3 separate regions of the Homo sapiens genome follow, and all the other regions are linked to region 3. The links come from fine-mapping of genetic effects on gene expression. A gene starts in region 3. Each other region holds a variant in brackets. All regions are shown on one strand. Distances are between the middles of the regions. Region 1 overlaps SYN2 (synapsin II). Region 2 has its middle 27 kb from the start of PPARG. Region 3 holds the start of SYN2 (synapsin II).

Region 1 (2,761 bases), 170 kb before region 3:
GGAGTCTGAGGAGCAGCCCACACCTCATCAGAGCCCTAGGATGCAAGGCCCAGCTCAGATCCTAGACAAGAGACCCCTAAAGTCAGTGAATGTGTAGGAGGGGTGGTGGGAAGGCAGTGGTACAGGGAAGAGACTCTGCAGGTATAGAGCCTGGAGGCTTTGGCCATGAGTGACCACCAGGTGTCACTGCCACCTCGAGAACAGTCTCCCTAAAGCATTTCAGAGTCCATGTACAGAGGGTCAGTTGCTGCTGCTGACCCTCACAGCAGCCCGCAAGCTGGCAGTCTGTCCAGGCCTGAGGCCAAGCTGTCATCAACCAGATCAGGCTTTACCACTCACCTCCCTGCTCTTGGTGACATGGCCAGTGCTTCTTATGCCCCTTCCTCTATTCCTTTGAAATGTGTACTGCAGCTGGCTTGGGCCCACCACCATGTCTTTGCTCTTTGCGTTCTATAATTAATCCATCCCAGGCTAGAGGTAAGGTGTGCCCTCTAATCACCATCCTCACCCCAAGCCCCAGCTCCCTGTCCCCATTTTAGGTGTTCCTCTAGAATCAAATAAATGAAAGCACTCATGGTGGAGCTAAGGACAACGATAGAGAAGGAGAAACAGAGAAGGGTAGACAAGTGGCTAGCCACAGGTCTGTCCTGGTCTTGGTCTAGAATTCTGGGCAGGAGCAGCTCCTAGGGCTTATGACTCAGACCAGAAGCTCTTTCAGCCTGAGCTTCCACAGCCACAGAAGAAAGAGGCCAGCAAGAGGTGCCTGTGAGGAATGGTGACAATGCCTGTGAGCAAGTCAGTGACAACACCTAAGGGCTGAGCTGGCTATGCAAAGTCCTGGCTTGGATGCAGGTAATGTTCCTCGGTTCACATCCTTTCCACTTGCACACTGCCAAGATCATCCAAAGGATCCTGACATCAATCCAATAGGCTGATAGGGCTATTAAAGATGCCTCTTCCAAATGGTGAACTCACTCAACAAATATGTATTACAATGGCACATCAAAGGGAGTGGGGCAGGAGTGGTTTGCTTGGTGGGAAGAGTATTTTATCAATGTCATTTGTATAGAATTGCTATCATATGTTGATAATAAAAAGCAGGCCAACTTAGTTTTGCTATTTTAAAAATTTTCTATAGCCAACTGATTGCACCTGGGCAAACCACTCTCACCTGTCTCCCCTTGGTACACCCTTGATGTATTTAA[AT/T]GGCTACTAGGTGCTAGATACAGTGGCCCTAGAGATATAGCCATAAACAAGTCTGTACTCTTGAGAACCTTACATTTTAGTAGAACAGACAATTAAATAGACAAGAATAATCTCAACTGATAGTGAGTGCTATGCAGAAAATTAAAGAAGGGAGAGGTGGTAGCCAGTGAGTAGGTGGCAGCTTTGGATTGGATAGTTGAGGAAGTATCAGTTATACTGTTAAGGAAAAGTCAGTTATGGCTGGGCGCGGTGGCTCATGCCTGTAATCCCAACATTTTGGGAGGCCAAGGTGGGCGGATCATGAGGTCAGGAGATCGAGACCATCTTGGCCAACATGGTGAAATCCCGTCTCTACTAAAATACAAAAAATTAGCCGGGCGTGGTGGCGCGTGCCTGTAATCCCAGCTATTCGGGAAGCTGAGGCAGGGGAATCGCTTGAACCCGGGAGGCGGTGGTGGCAGTGAGCTGAGATGCACCACCACACTCCAGCCTGGTGACAGAGCAAGACTCTGTCTCAAAAAAAATGCAAAACTAAGAAGAAAGAGCATTTCAGAGAGAGAGCACAGCCTAATACAAAGGCCCTTACCAGTGTGGCTAGGGCACAGTGAGCAACAGTTAGGATAGTACAAGGGAAAGAGGCAGGTAGGGGCCTACATAAATTGCTAGGGAAAAACAATGTTGGGGGGACAGGACTAAGGGGAAAAACTAGAGTTCTGCTTTGGCTGTGTTATATTTAGGGTGCCTTTAAGATATGCAAAGTAAGGATGTCAAGCAAGAGTTAGAAATGTGAGTCTGGAGTTTGAAGGGGTGGTCAGGGCAGGAGATAGATACAGGCTGGCCAAGACCACCAACAAATGTACGTTGACCAAGTTCTGGGGCACTGATGTTTAGACACTCAGCAGAAGTGGAAGAATCAGCAAAGGAGGCCAAGAAGGGGAAGCCAATGATGTAGAATGAAAACCAAGCGATGGGCGGGGGGGCCTCAGGGGCCTAGAAAATAGTGTTTAGAGGAGGGAGTAGTCAGCTGTGTCAAATGCTACTGAAAAGTCTGTAAGATAAGAACAAAAGTGACCACTGGACTCAGTGACATGGAGATGACTTTTTCTTTTTGAGACACAGTCCTGCTCTGTCACCCAGGTGCACTGGTACGATCTCGGCTCACTGCAACCTCTGCTTCCCGGGTTCAGGTGATTCTCCTGCCTCGGCCTCCCAAGTAGCTGGGATTACAGACACCTGCCACCATGCCCAGCTAATTTTTGTATTTTTAGTAGAGACGGGGTTTCACCATATTGGCCAGGCTGGTCTCGAACTCCTGACCTCGTGATCTACCTGCCTCGGCCTCCTAAAGTGCTGGGATTACAGGCGTGAGTCACTGCGTCTGGCCTCATGGAGGTGACTTTGACAAGGGCCATTTCAGTGGGATGGTTGGAGCGGGATGCTGACTAGAGAGGATAGGAGAGAAAATGTGGTAAAAGGGAGACGGTGGCTAAAACAACTTTCCAATAATCTTTTGGAAAAAGAGAAATTGATGGTGGAGAAGAAAGCAGATACTTGA
Region 2 (2,761 bases), 260 kb before region 3:
GCCTCCCTGCATCTCCACATCTGCTGTTCTTCTCTGCTTCTCTTTCATTCACTAACATTTTCTCCTTTTTTCTCACTGAAACCTCGAAACTATAATAGAAAACATTTTTATTCTTGAATTTAAATAGAAAAGGTGATTTGATAAATTAATTTCTTTAAAGATATCATTGTTGCAACTTCTAATTTTTTTTCCAACAAGTTGGTGACCTTTGACGGAAACACAGCAGCATCACTGCAGCTTACAGAATTACTGCTTAGCAAATGCATGAGACATTCAGAGGGACTTCTGATCAGTTTTCTAAGTTTCTTATGATTATCTTTTTTTTTTTGAGGCAAGGTCTCACTCTGTCACCCAAGCTGGAGTGCAGTGGCTCACTGCAGCCTCTGCCTCCCGGGTTCAGGTGATCCTCCCACCTCAGCTTCCCAAGTAGCTGGGACTTCAGGTATGTGCCACCACACACGGCTAATTTTTGTATTTTATTTATTTATTTATTTTGTATTTTTTGTAGAGATGAGGTTTCACCATGTTGCCCAGGCTGGTCGTGAACTCCTGGACTTAAGCCATCCGCCCTCCTTGGCGTCTCAAAGTGCTGGGATTACAGGTGTGAGCCACCACGCCCTGCCTCATGATTATCTTAGAAAGAAAACATAATAAACATTGAAATGCATAATGATCATTTGTATTTTTGTTTGAGACGGAGTCTCACTCTGTCCCAGGCTAGAGTGCAGTGGCACAATCTCGGCTCACTGCAGCCTCTGCCTCCTGGGTTCAAGTGATTCTCGTAACTCAGGTTCCTCAGTAGCTGGGATTACAGCTGCCCACCACCATGCCCAGCTAATTTTTGTATTTTTAGTAGAGATGGGGTTTTGCCATGCTGGCCAGGTTGGCCTCGAACTCCTGACCTCAAATGATCTGCCTGCCTCGGCCTCCCAAAGTGTTGGGATTATAGGCCTGAGCCACCGCACGACACCTGAAATGCATAATGCTCTTTCAGCAGGGTTGCCAACTTTAGCAAATAAAAATACAGGATGCCTAGTTAAATTTGAATTTTGGATAAACAAATCATTGTTTAGTGTACATCCCATGCCATATTTGAGACAAATTTATACTAAAAAAAGTACTTGCTGTTTATCTGCAATTCAAATTTAACCAGGCACTGTGTATTTTGTAATTGACTATATTCATAATATTTGTGTGTGTATATATACATGTGCGATATTTGTGAGCTGGGTGTTTTTTTTTTTTTTTTTTTGAGACGGAGTCTAGCTGTGTCACCCAGGCTGGAGGGCAGTGGCATGATCTCGGCTCACTGCAAGCTCCGCCTCGCAGGTTCACGCCATTCTCCTGCCTCAGCCTCCCGAGTAGCTGGGACTACAGGCTCCCGCCACCACGCCCGGCTAATTTTTTTGTATTTTTAGTAGAGACGGCGTTTCACCGTGTTAACCAGGATGGTCTCGATCTCCTGACCTCGTGATCTGCCCGCCTCGGCCTCCCAAAGTGCTGGGATTATAGGCGT[G/A]AGCCACCGTGCCCGGCCGAGCTGGGTGTTTTTAATTTGGGGACTAACTATTTACAGTTTCCTTGCTATTTCTCCTCCCTTATGCAGTATATAAAGTATTCCCTTTACATTTTAGCCCTTGGGTGTACATACTTTATTCCACTTCCTTCCAACTTTATCTTAAAAGTAGATGGCTTAAGAGAAAAAGGTACCTATGTATTCAATTCTCTATCACCTCCCTCTGAAAAAAGTGTTTACTTAATAAACATCAGGCAAGGGCAGCACTTCTGAACCTCTTTTAAAACAGTCAGCTTTATGGTTGCACTAAGTAGATTTTTTCTTAACGTCTCTCATTTTAAAACAAAATGTCTGAAATGATGAATAACTATAGGAATGGTAGCTAACATGTATTGAGCGCTTACTGTCAGGCACTGTTCAACATTATATAATGGCTTAAATCACTTACACCCCACAAACCACTGATGTGGGTACCATTAATACCCCTACTTCGGAGACGAGGAAAGAGACACAAAGAAGTTAGGCAAATCCCAGTTTCCCGTTATTAATATTTCACATTCGTATGATACGTTTGCCACAATTAATGGGCCCATGTTGTCATAGATTATTATTAGAGCCCATGTTTCATTCAGATGTCCCCAGTATTTCCCTCGCGTCCTGTTTCTGTCCCAGGATCCCATCCAGGGTGCCGCGTTTCACTTAGCCATCCTGTCGCCTTGGACTCCTCTTGGTTGTGAGTTTCTTAGGCTTTCTTGGTTCTTGACGACCTTGACAGTTTTGCAGAGGACTGGTTGGGTATGTTATAGAAAGTCCTTCAGTTGGGGTTTGTCTGGTGTCTCTCACGGTTCGACTGGGGTTGTGGGTTTGCGGGAGGGAGACCACAGAGTTAAGCACTGTCCTCATCACATCATGTCAACCTTGACCACCTGGCTGAGGGGGTGTTTGTCAGCTTTCTCCATGATAAAGTTATTATTATTTTCCCCCCCTTTCCATACTGTACTCTTTGAAAGGAAGTGATATTCCTAACCCACACCTGAGTGAGGAATTATGATTGAGCTATTTTTTAAACATCAGCTTTACTGAGACACAATGCACATGTTATATAATGCACCTGTTTAAAGTGTGCAATTCTGTGGCTTTCAGTATATTCAGAACTGTGCAAGCACCACCAGGATCTATTTTAAAACATTTTCATCACCCCAAAAAGAAACCCCATACCCATTAACAGTCATTCCCCTTTTCCCTCCC
Region 3 (2,761 bases):
CAATTTTATTATTCATAAAGAGACTTCAGCCATGCTCCGGGGAACAAGCCCGTGTACACCTGGGCCACTACATGTGTGATTTCATCAACCTGATGTCAATACTTGATATCAGCCTTCATGGGTCCTGGTTAAAAAAAACCCACCACCACCTTCTCCCTCCAAAATACCAATTTCCATTCCAAATTCACTCCGTGCTTCATGAAGTTAAACCTTTTTTACTGGCCCTAAATGTTCCTTCGGCCTCCTGGGACTATTTCACTTCAGATTTTATGTGTCTAAGCTAACAAGTGTGTCCCCTCCTCTACCCCCAAAAAAACTATTTCCTAAGGGCCTTTCCTGTTGCATAAAGTAGCTCCTTCTTGTATGGGACCTGGGGGACCTGGGGCAATTGAGGGGTATTTTAGCTTTGGGTTCGCCTTTCCGGGCTGATGGATGCCCTCCCTCACCCCGCAAACGCGCGCGCGCTCAGCCCGCACCTCCTCCCAGCGGGACCTCGGGGACCCTCCTTTTTATTGGTCTGAAACGTTTCCTCGGCGACCTGGGACCGTCCTCTCCTGGCCTGCGGCTGCCGGCGGACCCCGACCCCCGAGGGCGGCGGCGCCCGGCACCTACCAGTCGGCGTGCGGCTCGTCGACCACCAGCAGCACCTTGGCCTTCCTGGCGGCTGCGGGCGCGGGAGCGGGCGCGTCCACCAGGCCAGCCGAGGCGGCCGTCTGCTTCACGGCTTGGGACAGCGAGCTGAAGAAGCTGCTGCCCACCGACGGCGTCGGCGCGGGCTGCGGCGCGGGCGCCGAGGCGGGCGGCGGCCTCCGCTCCGGGCCCGGCGAGGCGGTCGGGGGCGCCGCCGAGGCCGAGGCGGCGCCCGGACCGGGGGGCGGCGGCGGCGGCGGCTGCTGGGGCTCGGGCCGCTGCAGGTCGGTCATGTAGCCGTTGGGCAGGTTGGCGATGAAGCTGCTGTCCGACAGCCGGCGCCGCAGGAAGTTCATCATCTGGCTTAAAGGGCTGGGGGCGCGCGGGGCTACGGGGTCTGGTGGCGCGGAGGGAGAGCGAGGGCGGAAGGCGAGATTGAGGCGACTGAGGCGGCTGAGGCGGCGGCTTAGCCAGCAGAGACTCAGGCCCCGGCACCAGACCCCGCAGACAGCAGCGGCGGTCTGGGCCAGGCAACCCGCGCGGCGCGAGGCTCGCGGAGAGGGAGCGGGCGGGGCAGGGGCGGGGCCAGAGATAGCCCCCGCCCCGCGCCGCAGAGGCGGCCCCGCCCCGCTCACGGAGGGCACCTAGCCGCGCGTCTGGCGACTCTCGGGGCTTGCAGGAGGGGGCGACCCAGGCCTCCAGCAACCTGAGCGTGACTATGCGGGGAGGGCGTGGGAGCCAGGCCTTCTCCCCAGGGGAAGGAAAAGGAACCAGAGGCCCCACCATCTTTTTGGTTGGAGAGAAAAAGAGCCGTGTCCCAGCTGAAATGGAGGCGAAGGAAACCGACCCCACTCCTTTTGGAAGGATAAGAGGTGTCAGCCTCCCTATGCGGAGGTGAGAACGAAAGGAGTCATCCCAATCACGCGCGCACACACGCACACAAGCACGAACACCCTGTAGTGAGGAGGAAAAGAACCACCTCCTTTCCCAACGCTGGGGAGAAAGATGTCATCTCCCCAGCCCCCAGAAGAGGGGGAAGGGAATAATCCGCTGTTACTAACACACACACACACACACGCGCGCGCGCGCGCGCACACACACACACACACACACACACACACACACACACACCCTATGGTGAGACAAAAAAGAAATACCTCTTCTAGGGAGGAAGGCAGCCTCCTTACTCCAAGGCGAGGGAGAGGAAAGGGGAGAAACAGATCCTCTCTACTCTGTCATGGAAGGAGGGGTGGGGTGTGTTTTCACTCCTGCACTTCTAGGGACAACAACAGTATGTACTTCTCTCCCCCTCCTCACTGACCAGTGAGAGAAAACCAAGAGAAGACTGGAGACATGGTCTCCACCCCAAGAGGGATATCTAAGGATCCCCCAACCCCACCGTGTTTCTTTCCTAGCATGCATTGATGCATCCAGTGCTATACCAAGAAGGACATCTCTTCAAGATCTTTCTACTTGTTTTTTCCATTTTATTCGTTGCCTTGACCTCTGTGAAGACATTTCTGATGGCCACCTTCCCATGTGCACTCTCTAAATCTTGCGTGACTCTTGGACCTTTAGTTTTCATCTCTCATTAGATATACTTTCCCTTGTGTTGTAATGGAGCAGGACACAGCAGATAGGCTTTACAGCAGACTACCCCGGGTGATATGTGACCCTGGATCAATAACCCCTGTGAGCCTCTCTCCTTAGCTGATAAAAAGGAATAAGTAACCCTTTCCAGAGTTGTTACATGGAGTAAATGAGATCATGTATGTAAAGCATCTGGTACACAGCAGTAGGTATTCCAGTAGTGATGCCTGAATTCTTTTTTCAATTGGTTCTCAGTAAGTATGTACTGGGCTGAATGGAGTCAGGGAGTGGCTTGTCACTAATGTTGGTGGGCAGTTCTTGCTTCCTGTATCCCAGCTGGCACTCAACTCAGGGCCTAGAGATACACAATCCAGCTCTGAGCCGGTGCTATCAGAGAAGTCTCCAGTCAACTATAATAACACAGTGGTCTTCCTATCTACTACATGCTTGGCACAGTGGTAAGAGCTGGAAAGGCTGAAATGAATGGGAAGTGGCTCTTGTCTATTGCAAGTTCATGATCTATGTGGGCTGGGGGATGGAG

What was found. PIP is the estimated chance that this variant, and not a neighbour inherited with it, causes the effect.
Region 1: its variant is fine-mapped to the expression of SYN2 in whole blood (TOPMed, PIP 0.99).
Region 2: its variant is fine-mapped to the expression of SYN2 in whole blood (TOPMed, PIP above 0.99).

What each region holds. Positions count from the first base shown.
Region 1 is chr3:12,173,463-12,176,223 of GRCh38, reverse strand. The region is part of intron 10 of SYN2 (synapsin II); the gene reads right to left. Among named protein-coding and RNA genes, the nearest start is that of TIMP4, 16 kb to the right of the region's middle. RefSeq lists a silencer at 127-206. The variant AT/T (reference allele first, on the strand shown) is at 1,206.
Region 2 is chr3:12,260,208-12,262,968 of GRCh38, reverse strand. No RefSeq gene overlaps it. Among named protein-coding and RNA genes, the nearest start is that of PPARG, 27 kb to the left of the region's middle. The variant G/A (reference allele first, on the strand shown) is at 1,517.
Region 3 is chr3:12,002,780-12,005,540 of GRCh38, reverse strand. SYN2 (synapsin II) reads right to left here and starts at 1,153. Exons shown (of 13, transcript NM_133625.6): 1 at 613-1,153. The coding sequence starts at 989. RefSeq lists an enhancer at 1-454.